Homo sapiens: one gene and its partners. The protein of the gene in region 1 purifies or fractionates together with the protein of each later gene. This does not show direct contact. Each region holds a gene or a part of one and is shown in the gene's direction. Other genes may lie near its edges. The genes, in order: CDKL5, GPALPP1 and SERPINB8.

Evidence for each region.
Region 2: the proteins of CDKL5 (region 1) and GPALPP1 purify together in Homo sapiens (affinity purification with mass spectrometry; 2 studies listed by BioGRID and IntAct, with this or other methods). This does not show direct contact.
Region 3: the proteins of CDKL5 (region 1) and SERPINB8 purify together in Homo sapiens (affinity purification with mass spectrometry; 3 studies listed by BioGRID and IntAct, with this or other methods). This does not show direct contact.

The regions. Positions count from the first base shown.
Region 1 is NC_000023.11:18,603,600-18,607,350, forward strand, and holds part of CDKL5 (cyclin-dependent kinase-like 5), read left to right. Parts: intron 1-302; coding exon 303-1,269; intron 1,270-3,751. UniProt on the Homo sapiens protein: Mediates phosphorylation of MECP2. May regulate ciliogenesis.
Region 2 is NC_000013.11:45,013,476-45,017,226, forward strand, and holds part of GPALPP1 (GPALPP motifs-containing protein 1), read left to right. Parts: intron 1-1,456; coding exon of another isoform or gene 1,457-1,476; coding exon 1,477-1,608; intron 1,609-1,956; coding exon 1,957-2,121; exon of another isoform or gene 2,122-2,122; intron 2,123-3,751.
Region 3 is NC_000018.10:63,968,127-63,971,877, forward strand, and holds the start of SERPINB8 (serpin B8), read left to right. Parts: upstream 1-1,954; 5' UTR 1,955-2,044; exon of another isoform or gene 2,045-2,378; intron 2,379-3,751. Other genes in the region: serpin-like protein HMSD, read left to right, coding at 212-525. UniProt on the Homo sapiens protein: Has an important role in epithelial desmosome-mediated cell-cell adhesion.

The DNA.
Region 1 (3,751 bases):
CCAATATAATGAGAGTATGTTTTACCAGATTATCATTTAGAAACTGTTTTGACAGCAAGTTAGCTGAGCATTTAGCAGTGCCAGAATAATTTCATCAAGGCCAGTGCTTTGTTACAGAGTGAGTTGGTCTAAGAAACTTAATTGCTGTTGATAGGTTACTTGTTATTCGAAGGCACATGCTTGAGAGAATTAATGTTTTTAGTCTTCCAGGTGTTTTGAGTATTTGTTCTTTCTTTTTAACAATACTTTTTGTGTGTCAGCTATTGAGGGAAACTGATATACTTCTTTTGTTTTTAACATAGAAACCAAGCCGGCAAAAGTACTGCTTTGCAGTCTCACCACAGATCTAACAGCAAGGACATCCAGAACCTGAGTGTAGGCCTGCCCCGGGCTGACGAAGGTCTCCCTGCCAATGAAAGCTTCCTAAATGGAAACCTTGCTGGAGCTAGTCTTAGTCCACTGCACACCAAAACCTACCAAGCAAGCAGCCAGCCTGGGTCTACCAGCAAAGATCTCACCAACAACAACATACCACACCTTCTTAGCCCAAAAGAAGCCAAGTCAAAAACAGAGTTTGATTTTAATATTGACCCAAAGCCTTCAGAAGGCCCAGGGACAAAGTACCTCAAGTCAAACAGCAGATCTCAGCAGAACCGCCACTCATTCATGGAAAGCTCTCAAAGCAAAGCTGGGACACTGCAGCCCAATGAAAAGCAGAGTCGGCATAGCTATATTGACACAATTCCCCAGTCCTCTAGGAGTCCCTCCTACAGGACCAAGGCCAAAAGCCATGGGGCACTGAGTGACTCCAAGTCTGTGAGCAACCTTTCTGAAGCCAGGGCCCAAATTGCGGAGCCCAGTACCAGTAGGTACTTCCCATCTAGCTGCTTAGACTTGAATTCTCCCACCAGCCCAACCCCCACCAGACACAGTGACACGAGAACTTTGCTCAGCCCTTCTGGAAGAAATAACCGAAATGAGGGAACGCTGGACTCACGTCGAACCACAACCAGACATTCTAAGACGATGGAGGAATTGAAGCTGCCGGAGCACATGGACAGTAGCCATTCCCATTCACTGTCTGCACCTCACGAATCTTTTTCTTATGGACTGGGCTACACCAGCCCCTTTTCTTCCCAGCAACGTCCTCATAGGCATTCTATGTATGTGACCCGTGACAAAGTGAGAGCCAAGGGCTTGGATGGAAGCTTGAGCATAGGGCAAGGGATGGCAGCTAGAGCCAACAGCCTGCAACTCTTGTCACCCCAGGTACAGTTGAGCACCTTGACTGAATCTGGTGGCCCTTCAGGGGAAGGTGGTACGAGGGATGTGATGAGGGTCCATCTACTATTTTCCCTACTACAGGAGGTTGTGCTTTTCTTGATAGGATGCATTTAGGGAAGCAATACTTGGCCTAATCTCTGTTTTTTTGTTTTTTGTTTTTTAAATCTATTTAGATCAACCGTTGAGTACTCAAGAAAAGTCAAATTTTGTTTTTAGTGATCTTTTTTTTTTTCTTAAATGTTCTTTTCTGGAATATTTTGTTGAGAGAATCCTATTTTGATTTATTACAGAATTCATCAGCTGTATCAGTTAGGTTTTAGTTTTTCTTAAAATACAGTGTGAATTCATGGGTATTTTCTCTGATCTCTCCAAACCACATTTGCTTAAATCAAAAGCTTTTGCTAGTACCTTACTCAATATTTTAACTGAATTTAAAAGTTTTAAATTTGTCCAGAACTACAGATAAATTTAACTTCATACCAGGATAAATGTTAGTTTTCAGTCTTTTGGATTGTTTTTAAATCTTAAAACAGCATTTTTAGCATAATGCTTCCTCCATCTTATTCATCGTCAAACTCTAGAACTGACCTAACCTGCTTAAAAGAAGTAGCATTCCTTCACTTGAACCTGGGAGGCAGAGGCTGCAGTGAGCCAAGATCACACCACTGCACTCCAGCCTGGGCAATAGAACGAGACTCTGTCTCAAAAACAAAAACAGAAACAAAAACAAAAAAAACAAGAAGTAGCATTCTTACAGTAGAGCATGTTTTAAAAATAATGTTATCATGATTTCATCTATAAAGTACTGTGCCCAGTGCCTGGCACAAAGTAAGTGTCTAACAAATTTTAGTTATTCTTGCTGCTTCTGTGATTGTGGAGGCTGATATTTGGACATTGAACACCTTTTCTATGCTGGGTGTTCCCAGGCACTCAAAAGAGTCTGAGAGAGCTCTTGCACTTGAGAAACTTACCTGCTCTTGGGGAAGATAAACTGATACATGATAACAATGAAATAAGTAGCCAGGTGCAGTGGCTCACGCCTGTAATCCCAGCACTTTGGGAGGCCGAGGCAGGCAGATCACGAGGTCAGGAGATCGAGACTATCCTGGCCAACATGGTGAAACCCCGTCTCTACTAAAATACAAAAATTGGCTGGGCGTGGTGGCGTGTGCCTGTAATTCCAGCTACTCAGGAGGCCGAGGCACTAGAATCGCTTGAACCCAGGAGGTGGAGGTTGCAGTGAGCCGAGATCGTGCCACTGCACTTCAGCCTGGTGACAGAGCAAGACTGTCACACACACACACACACACACACACACACACACACAAACACACAATGAAATAAGTAAGACCTAAGTCAATATGGCACTGGCTATAAATAGGAACTGAGAATAGAGAGAGGTCATTGTGAGCAGAAGCAGTTAGAAATGGCTTTACAGGCAACTGAAGGTCTTTCTCTGGGCTAGGATGTATAGACAAGCTTTGAATTGGCTGAAGAGTGAAGGTATGTTCAGGTACGTCCTGAGCTAGGCAACATGAAAAGCTCTAGCTAGAAAGATGAAAAGAATAGGTTCCCTGTCGTCTTAAGTGTGTGGGCTGGCAGGGGACACTTGTCAACAGATAAGTTGTTCCACTACTGTGAGGTTACATTCTGGCTACTGTGCTAGAGGCATGCCAGTGTGGCAAGGGAGCGAGACAGTCCAAGTTGTGAGTTGTGGGAGCTCCTAGAACAGGTGGCACCTGAGCAGAGACTTCCAGAAAGGTTGGGAAGAAAGTGACAGTGACCTCAGGAAAGAGGGAAGAAAAGAGCATTGGAAGGAGAAGGAAGGTAACAGATGTTACATAGCATGGTATGCTTTGGGCATTGCAACTTGTTCCACTTTGCTGGAGTGAAAAATGCAAAATTTGGAGTGGCTTTTGCAATAATTCAAGCACGAGGTGAAGAGAATATGTTTGGGATTAAGTCAGTGCCAGTGGGAAACGGAGTGGATCTTCTACTCCTCAGAAGTAGAAACAATAGGATTTGTGATTTGAAGGATTGAATATAGGAAAAAGGAAGACTTCATGGTTTCTTTTCTAGGACCTCCTTTTTGGAGTGAAAGAGAGTAGTTTTGAAGTCACCTAATTCAACCCCTTCATTTCACAGATGAGCATGTCGAAGCTCAGAGAAGTTGGGTGAGTTGCTCCAAGTTTACCCAACCAGCTCAGGATGGAGCTGGGATTATGAGGCAAGCTCCAGGTGCTGAGGCCAGCTGCTTGCCACTGGTGTCTTGCGGACATGTTGAATTTGAAGTGACCTTGGCCTCTAAGCAGAAGTGTGCTCTAAGAGGCTAAAAAGATGGTCTGGCACCCAGGTGAAAGGAGAAAGCAAGAGGTGCCCATTTGCAGAGGCTGGAAGTGGAGTCAGAGGAATGGTCAGAGGAGCCCTGAGGAGATGCTGTCGGGAGAAAGAACCTCCAGAGCCTAGA
Region 2 (3,751 bases), on another chromosome or scaffold:
GTCAGCTGAGCAAGAAGAATAAGACCAAAGTGACTACTTTGTAATATTTTGTAAACATGTCCATACAATAGTTACTACTTTTTTTTAGTGACTGGACTAGAATTACCAATATTTTTCCCCAGGTGTTAGAGAAGGCCCCAGTTCCCTAAGAAGGGTGTGGCTTTAAAGAGGATAAAGAAAATGCAGGCTTCTCTTGGCAATAGAGTAGTTATTGGTAGAAGCTGTTATAATTTCCATGCCAAAGACAGGAAAATCAGGGCTTAGAAAGGTTAAATAACATGCCTGAAGTCACAGGGCTAGTACAATGGCAAATGAGGCCTTCAACAAAGTCAGCCCAAAGTATAAACTGGTAAGGTACCTAATTTCTATTGTAATTCTGGATAAAATGTGCACCATTTTTTTTATTAAAAGAAATAACTCATCCAGGACACCAAAATAATTTAATACCCATAGATAGGAATTGGGCATATTCTGTTTCTGATTTTCAGTTTAGTGTGTTTGGCCTAATTTTCTGTTTGCTTCTCCATCCCTGCTTTTGTTTGCCCCTGAACGTAAGTGATACTTATTTCTAAAAATTGCAGGCATCATCCTACCAGGACATGCTGAAATTCTACCTTTATTAAACCATCTCTTATTAAGATGGAAGTGAGACGATCATTAGCTTATTCCACTAATACTGTATTGGTACCATGACTCTTAGAGTTTGTGTTTTGTTTTGTTTTCATGTCTCATAGTTTTAAAATTTCATTATAGCTTTTACATCTGAACATTTTGCATCACCAAATATTTATATCTGTAGGGGGTTATAAATATGTTTAATATAATGTCTGTAACATCAGAAAGCTTACTATTGTAGATATAAGCTAGAAACACTTAATGCTAAATCACTAACAGTTGAGATAAAATAATAGACAGGCCACTGTTGTATACATGGAAAAAATATACTGGCCTTGATCTTGGAATGTTTCATTCTTGGATAATAGTTTTATTACACTCTAAGCCTAAGTTTCCTCCAAAAAAAAAGAAACCAGAAATAGTGCCATTTTACAGTTTTGTTACAAGGATCAAATGAGGTATATGACAAAATCCATAGTTATTAAGAGTATGTTTGTGTGTGTGTGTGTATTAGAGTAAGCCACAAGACAGTATATAGTTGTCTAATTATTGTACTATGCTGAAAAGAGCTCTAAGTCTACATCTGTGTCCTTCAGGAAGAGAGTGAGGTCTGTCATGGACACAGGAAGAGAGGTGGGAGGTGGGAGAGAGTCTGCATGCCATGGATTTGTCATCTCTGTGCTAGGCACTTGAGGAAGGTGAGGAAAAAGTCCTCATGGTTCAGTGATGAGCCAGCAATACATTGTTTACTTTTTTATTTTTTATGGATAATAAGTTTCAGTTAAATGCAGGTAATTTAGAATTATTTTTTATAACCTGTAGCTCTGCTCTTGGTTTAAAGGTAATGTCTTGTTTTAAAAGGAAACAGACAGCAGTGAAGATGAGGATATTATTGGACCAATGCCTGCAAAAGGACCAGTTAACTATAATGTAACGACAGAGTTTGAAAAAAGGGCCCAGAGAATGAAAGAAAAACTGACCAAAGGAGATGATGTAAGTTTTAAAAACACTTTAAGAAATACACTAAATAGATTAAAAATCTAAATTTTAGAAATAAACACTAAACTATATAACTTTTAATATATTTTGTTTTTATGCATAACATTTTTTTAAATTTAGGAGTTAGAACCCAGAAACTCTAAAAGAAAAATAACAAATTGGATGAACGTCTTTGTAACTTATATGACAAATATATGTGACAAAAACATCGATCCTTTATATTAGAGTTTGTTAAGTAACTTTAAAACTTCAATTGCATGACACAGTTGCTTGTACATATATATGTACTCATCTTATACACGATATGTACTTTCTATGCTGTGTTTTTTTTTTCTCTTAAAGGATTCATCTAAACCCATTGTAAGAGAGTCATGGATGACTGAACTTCCTCCAGAAATGAAAGACTTTGGTCTTGGGCCAAGGACTTTTAAGAGAAGAGCTGATGACACATCTGGAGATCGATCAATCTGGACAGATACTCCAGCTGATAGGGAAAGGAAAGCTAAGGTGAGAGGTTTTGTTTGTTTGTTCATGTATTTCTGTTCATGTTGGCTGGATTTTGAAAAGATATAATGCAAAATTATTTAAGGGTACTATTTTTTAAAATTATGATTCCAAAAGGATAATGCGGATTTTCCTCTGGAGGAAGAGTATGAGGAAGGAAAGTGACACCAATTGCTTGCTGTTTACTTACTATTTCCCAATAAACGGTCTCATTTAAACCTCAAGAAAACTCTGAGACATAGGTATAATGGCCTTATTTTATAGATGGAGAAACTATCCTCTATGAGGTCAACGTTTCTAGGGTCACAAAGCTAGTAAGTGATGAAAAATAATTTCATTTTAGACCTTTCTAGCTCCAGATTCCCTGGTCTTTTTACACCATACTATCTTTATGAACATATATCTTTTAAAATATTTTAGAAAAAAAAAACAAAGCTGCAGATTAACCTAGCAAATTAAATGGTGCCTAGAGAATTTCTCTCAAAATGACCATATCTCAGGTGCACTAAGCTTCATGTTACTGTCAAGATAGACAAGAACCACTGTCATTAATACAGTAAGTTATCCAAAAAATACCAGCCGGCCGCAGTGGCTCATGCCTGTAATCCCAGCACTTTCCAAGGCCAAGGCAGGGCGGATCACCTGAAGTCAGGAGTTCGAGACCAGCCTGGCCAACATGGTGAAACCCTGTCTCTACTAAAAATAAAAAAATTAGCCAGGCGCGGTGGCATGTGCCTATAATCCCAGCTACTTGGAAAGCTGAGGCAGGAGAATCACTCAAACCCGGGAGGCAGAGGTTGCAGTGAGCCAAGATTGCGCCGCTGCACTCCAGCCTGGGCAACAGAGCGAGACTCCATCTCAAAAAAAAACAAAAAAACAAAAATCTGTATGCATAAAATACATTATTTTTAATCTTCTGTTCTTGAATCTTTTTCTGTTTATTACAAAATATTTCATTGTATATTAGGAATTAAACCAGTATCCCCAGTACTACTCCTTCAATTTAATCCATCTGTGGGTTTTGGTTTTTTCTTTTTGGTTTTTTTGTTTGGTTGTTTGTTTTTTAAGAGACAAGGTCTCTCTGTCACCCAGGTTGGACTGCAGTGGTGCAATCACAGCTCACTGCAGTCTCAAAGGATCAACCCTCTTGGGCTCAGGTGATCCTCCTGCCTCAGCCTCCTGAGGAGCTGAGACTACAGGCACACAACTAATTTTTTTTATTTTTTATTTTTGTAAAGACAAGGCCTTGCTATGTTGTTCAGGCTAGTCTCAAACTCCTGGGCTCAAGCAATCCTCCCAAAGTGCTGGGATTACAGGCGTGAGCCGCTGTGCGCAGCCTCTCTCTAAAGGTTTTAATTTCTGTAAGACATCCCATTCAATTCTCAAATGCTTGACTAATTGTCACCTTATGATTATAAATTCATCAGTTCTGACTAAAGCAGTTCCACACTTAGTTCATTCCACTAGCTCTGTTTGTATTACTCATCAGTACCTAGAATTGTCAGGATTTCTGTTTTCAATCTGTAATGATCAATTTTCCTGTTTTGTCAGGAATTGTATTTGGTTTCAGGTGATAGAAAGAGTCAAGAGCTCCTTAAGGACTTTCCATTTTAGTGGATAATTGCCTGTGAAA
Region 3 (3,751 bases), on another chromosome or scaffold:
TTCCTCAAGGCCATGTCCTCCTCTCCATTTCTCCTGCCTCTGTTTCATTTCAGCTTTCCTCATCTCTCATCCATGCTGCGTCCTTAACGCCTCACTGCAGGCAATGGTACCCTCCTACAATATACTCCATGTTGCAGCCAGAGGGACCTTCGTAAATACAAATATGATTATGTTTCTCCCCAGCTTAAAATCCTTTTGTGTTTCCCCATAGTCCACAAGGGAACGAAGAAACACCACCAACAGCGTCCACATGGCCTTCACGACATGGCCCTGTGGACACATCAGACGTTGTCTTGCAGTGCCTCATCCACACTATCTGTACCACTGCAGGCCTGGATACGTCATGGTTTTCATGGTGCTATCTTGTGCCTCTTTGCACCTGCACGCACTGTGTTTCCTACATGGGATATCTGTGTTTACAACCAAACTCCCAGGGGCCAAATTATATCCTTTGTAAAGGACTTCAAACCACCAGGCATTTGCTGGAAGTTTCACGGAGGAAAACAAGCATTTTTCATCTTTTAATCTGTTTTGCTGGTCAAAGAGGAAAAGGAGTGGATGGACAAAGTGGGGCCCAAAGTCTGGATCTAGTTCTGACCAACAAGGAGAAATTGATGCACAATGGGGAAGTGACCTTGGCATTTTCAACTGGCAGAGCCGGTAAGTTTGGGCACAGTTCAAATGTGAGTCTGTAGCCACTAGAGAGAGGGGTTTCAAAGTCATGGAGAAAAGATGGGGGTGAATCCTGCACCAAGACTTATTGAGGAGAGTTCTTGGGAACAGTTACTTTTAGGATTCCACAGGGAAATCACTGAGCGAGTTTTACAAAATACTGCTGCTGGGTTCCCTCCTCCAAGAGATCTTTACTTAATTGGTTTGGGGTGCAGAGTGGGAATGTGCATCTTTAAAAGCAGAATTCCCAAACTGGAGAGCTCTGTGAGAGCTTCCTGCAGGAGACATTATTTGAACTGAATTTTGAAAGACAAGCTTGCATGCCAGGAACCCCATGTATATGAACAGAGGATATGAAGGAATGTAAATAATTTGCTATGGCTCTAAAGAAAAGAAGGGAGAAATCAAGACGTGAAGAGGCTTACACTCCTTGCTCAATAGTTTCTAATTTATCTTTTTGGATAAGAGGATGTTATAAAGGATTTTAAACTGAGGTATAAAATAATTAGAATTGGAATGTTTACCTGAACTTCAGAGTAGGCAATAGGTTGGCATGGATCAGAACTGTAGGTAGGAAAATTAATTGTTTAGGAGAGACATGAGACATGATAGAGGTGACAGAGTATGGACAGGAGGAACACAAAAGTGATAGAAGTAACAGGACTGTTGATCATTTAGTTAAAAGAACTGCGGAGGGACACACCCAGGTTTCTGAGAGATGTCCAGTAGTACACAGGTAACATCTACGGCTCGAGACAGGTTAGAGATTTTGAAGAAATAAGTTAAAAGTTGAAACATGAACCTATGGATATAGTGGAGGTCATACAAGAAGATCATATTATAATGAAAAGAAGAGGGCTTAGAATGGTAGGAAAGGAATCAGGATACCAAGCAAAGGAGTCAGGAAAGAAGGGAAGGGTGCTCTGGAAATCCTGGGAAGGTCAAAGAAGAAAGGGCTAAATGTCGCCAACAAACAAAATGAAATAAGACCTGGGATGTATTTTTTGGCCAAGGCAATTAGAAAATGATTAGTATCCTTATCAGGAGCAATTTCAGAGAATGTTTGGGTGGACGTCTAACTACAGTGGAGTCAAACGTGAATCAACGGTGAAAAAAGGACAATAGCCAATGTGTACACTTTTTATAAAAACCACCCTCCAAGGACCAGGCACTGGCCCTCTCTCCGGTGCCCACAGACATCCACACAGGCCCAAAGAATCAGGGATTGCACAAGCCAGAGCAATCGAACGGTTCTGAGTCATCTGCCGGAAGCCTTGCCCTCAATCAAGGCGGACGTGAAGCATCTACAAAGGAGGAATAGTCAAAGCAGCAGCGGCGGCGGCGGCGGCGGCAGCAGCAGCAGCAGCAGGAGGTGGGGGCCTCTGCCAGGTACCGGGCGGGGCAGGCACGGAGGTGCCCAGGTTCCCGCGGAGGCCACCTCTTCCCTGGAGTGCGTGAGAGAGGGGAAGGGAGGAAGGCCAGAGCAGGAATCAGAGCGAGGCAAAGGCGGGCAGGAACTAGGAGAATGACGGCGGGAGGCGGCCGGGAAAGAGAGTCGCGGGGCTGTGGGGGTCGCCCTGGCACCAGCCGGGGTCCCAAGCCCCACCGCGAGACCCGGCGAAGGCCGAGGGCCGGGTCCCGAGAACAGGTGCGCCCAGACCCGCCCTGAATAGGAAGCTGCCCCTGGAGAGGGAGCGTCTGTTTCTAGGCTTGCGATTTGCTGCGCTGTGATTTGCTGCCGGATGGGAGCGGGGGGTGACGCGAGCAGTGAGTTTGGAAGCGCCGGAAGCTTGGGCGGGAGCCCCGGGAGGGCGAGTGGGAGGAGCCGCCGCTGCGGAGGAGGCTCCGGGAGTGCGGGTGGCGGGGCCTGGAATTTCCGTGGCGCCTGGGGCAGATCGGGGAGGCGCCGAGTCCCTGCTCCCCTGGCGCCCAAGCTTGCCCCTGTGCTTACAGCCTATTGGTTGCACCTTCTCCTTCCCTTCCTGTCCCCCCCCTCCGTTCTTTCCACCCCTGCCTTCATCTTTCTGTATCTTTCATATTCTCTTCTTCATTGTCTGCTTCCTCTCAAATGGGATGGGGTTGGGGGTGCTTCTTCACCTACGCCCCTCTCTGTTGCAGCCACCGGCGTTACTTTAACCAATTCCTCACTTTCCAGACACTCTCAGTCCTCTGGCTGCTGCTTCACTCCTGAGACCTCTCCATTCCAAAGGGCCTCACCCAGGGCTGCTCTCCGGGCCCCTCCCGCTTCCCTGCCTCGGGCTCTGCGTAGACCGCGCCCTCTTCCCTGGGTCCACTCGCAGGGGCAGACTCGTCTCCCCAGTTCTCCCAGCACACCCTGATGGCTGGGTCTCAGTCTCCGTTTCGCGCGCGCGCTCTCCCCTCGCCCTCCTCTGTCTCTTCCTTTTACTACCTCCAGATATTGGAAATTCCACAGAAATAGGTGGATTTCTTCCCTTGTGCCTCCACTAGATGTTCTGTGTAGTTTCATCCATTCTCATGGAACCTCTCGGAATCGGGATGCTGATGGCTCCAGGTCTCTGGCTCTAGACAGTCTACTCATCCCCGTCCCTAACTGTTTACAAACATCCTTGGCTGTCTTTGTTACAGGTTCACCTGGTATGGTGTGTTCCACGCATCTCAAATGGAACAAGTCATATTCCCCATTCCAGCCTGACTCCTCATTTAAAATTCCAGTGGTTCACGACCCACCCTGAGTATGAATTTATAACAGCTAGGCGCCTCGGGACTGGGCCCTCCTGTGCTCTGTCCCTATGTGAGCAGTCACTGCCTGGCAATTCCAGCCCCCACTTCTCTATTGCAGACAATCCCTCTGCTTTCAGCAGTCCCTGGCCCATGGTGGTGGCCTACGCGCCAGCTCCCCAGCCTCTTTTCATACCAAATACTGAGCCGGGTTATCTTTCTAAAGCCCCAATGCACTCATATGAGACGTTTGTTTAAAAACCATGCATGGCTTTCCAGACCATAATCTCAAGTTCAAACTCCTAAATGTGGCATAAGGGTCCGTCCTATCTCACTACCACGTGGCTCACAGGAAACCATAGAAACCCACCCCAGGGGC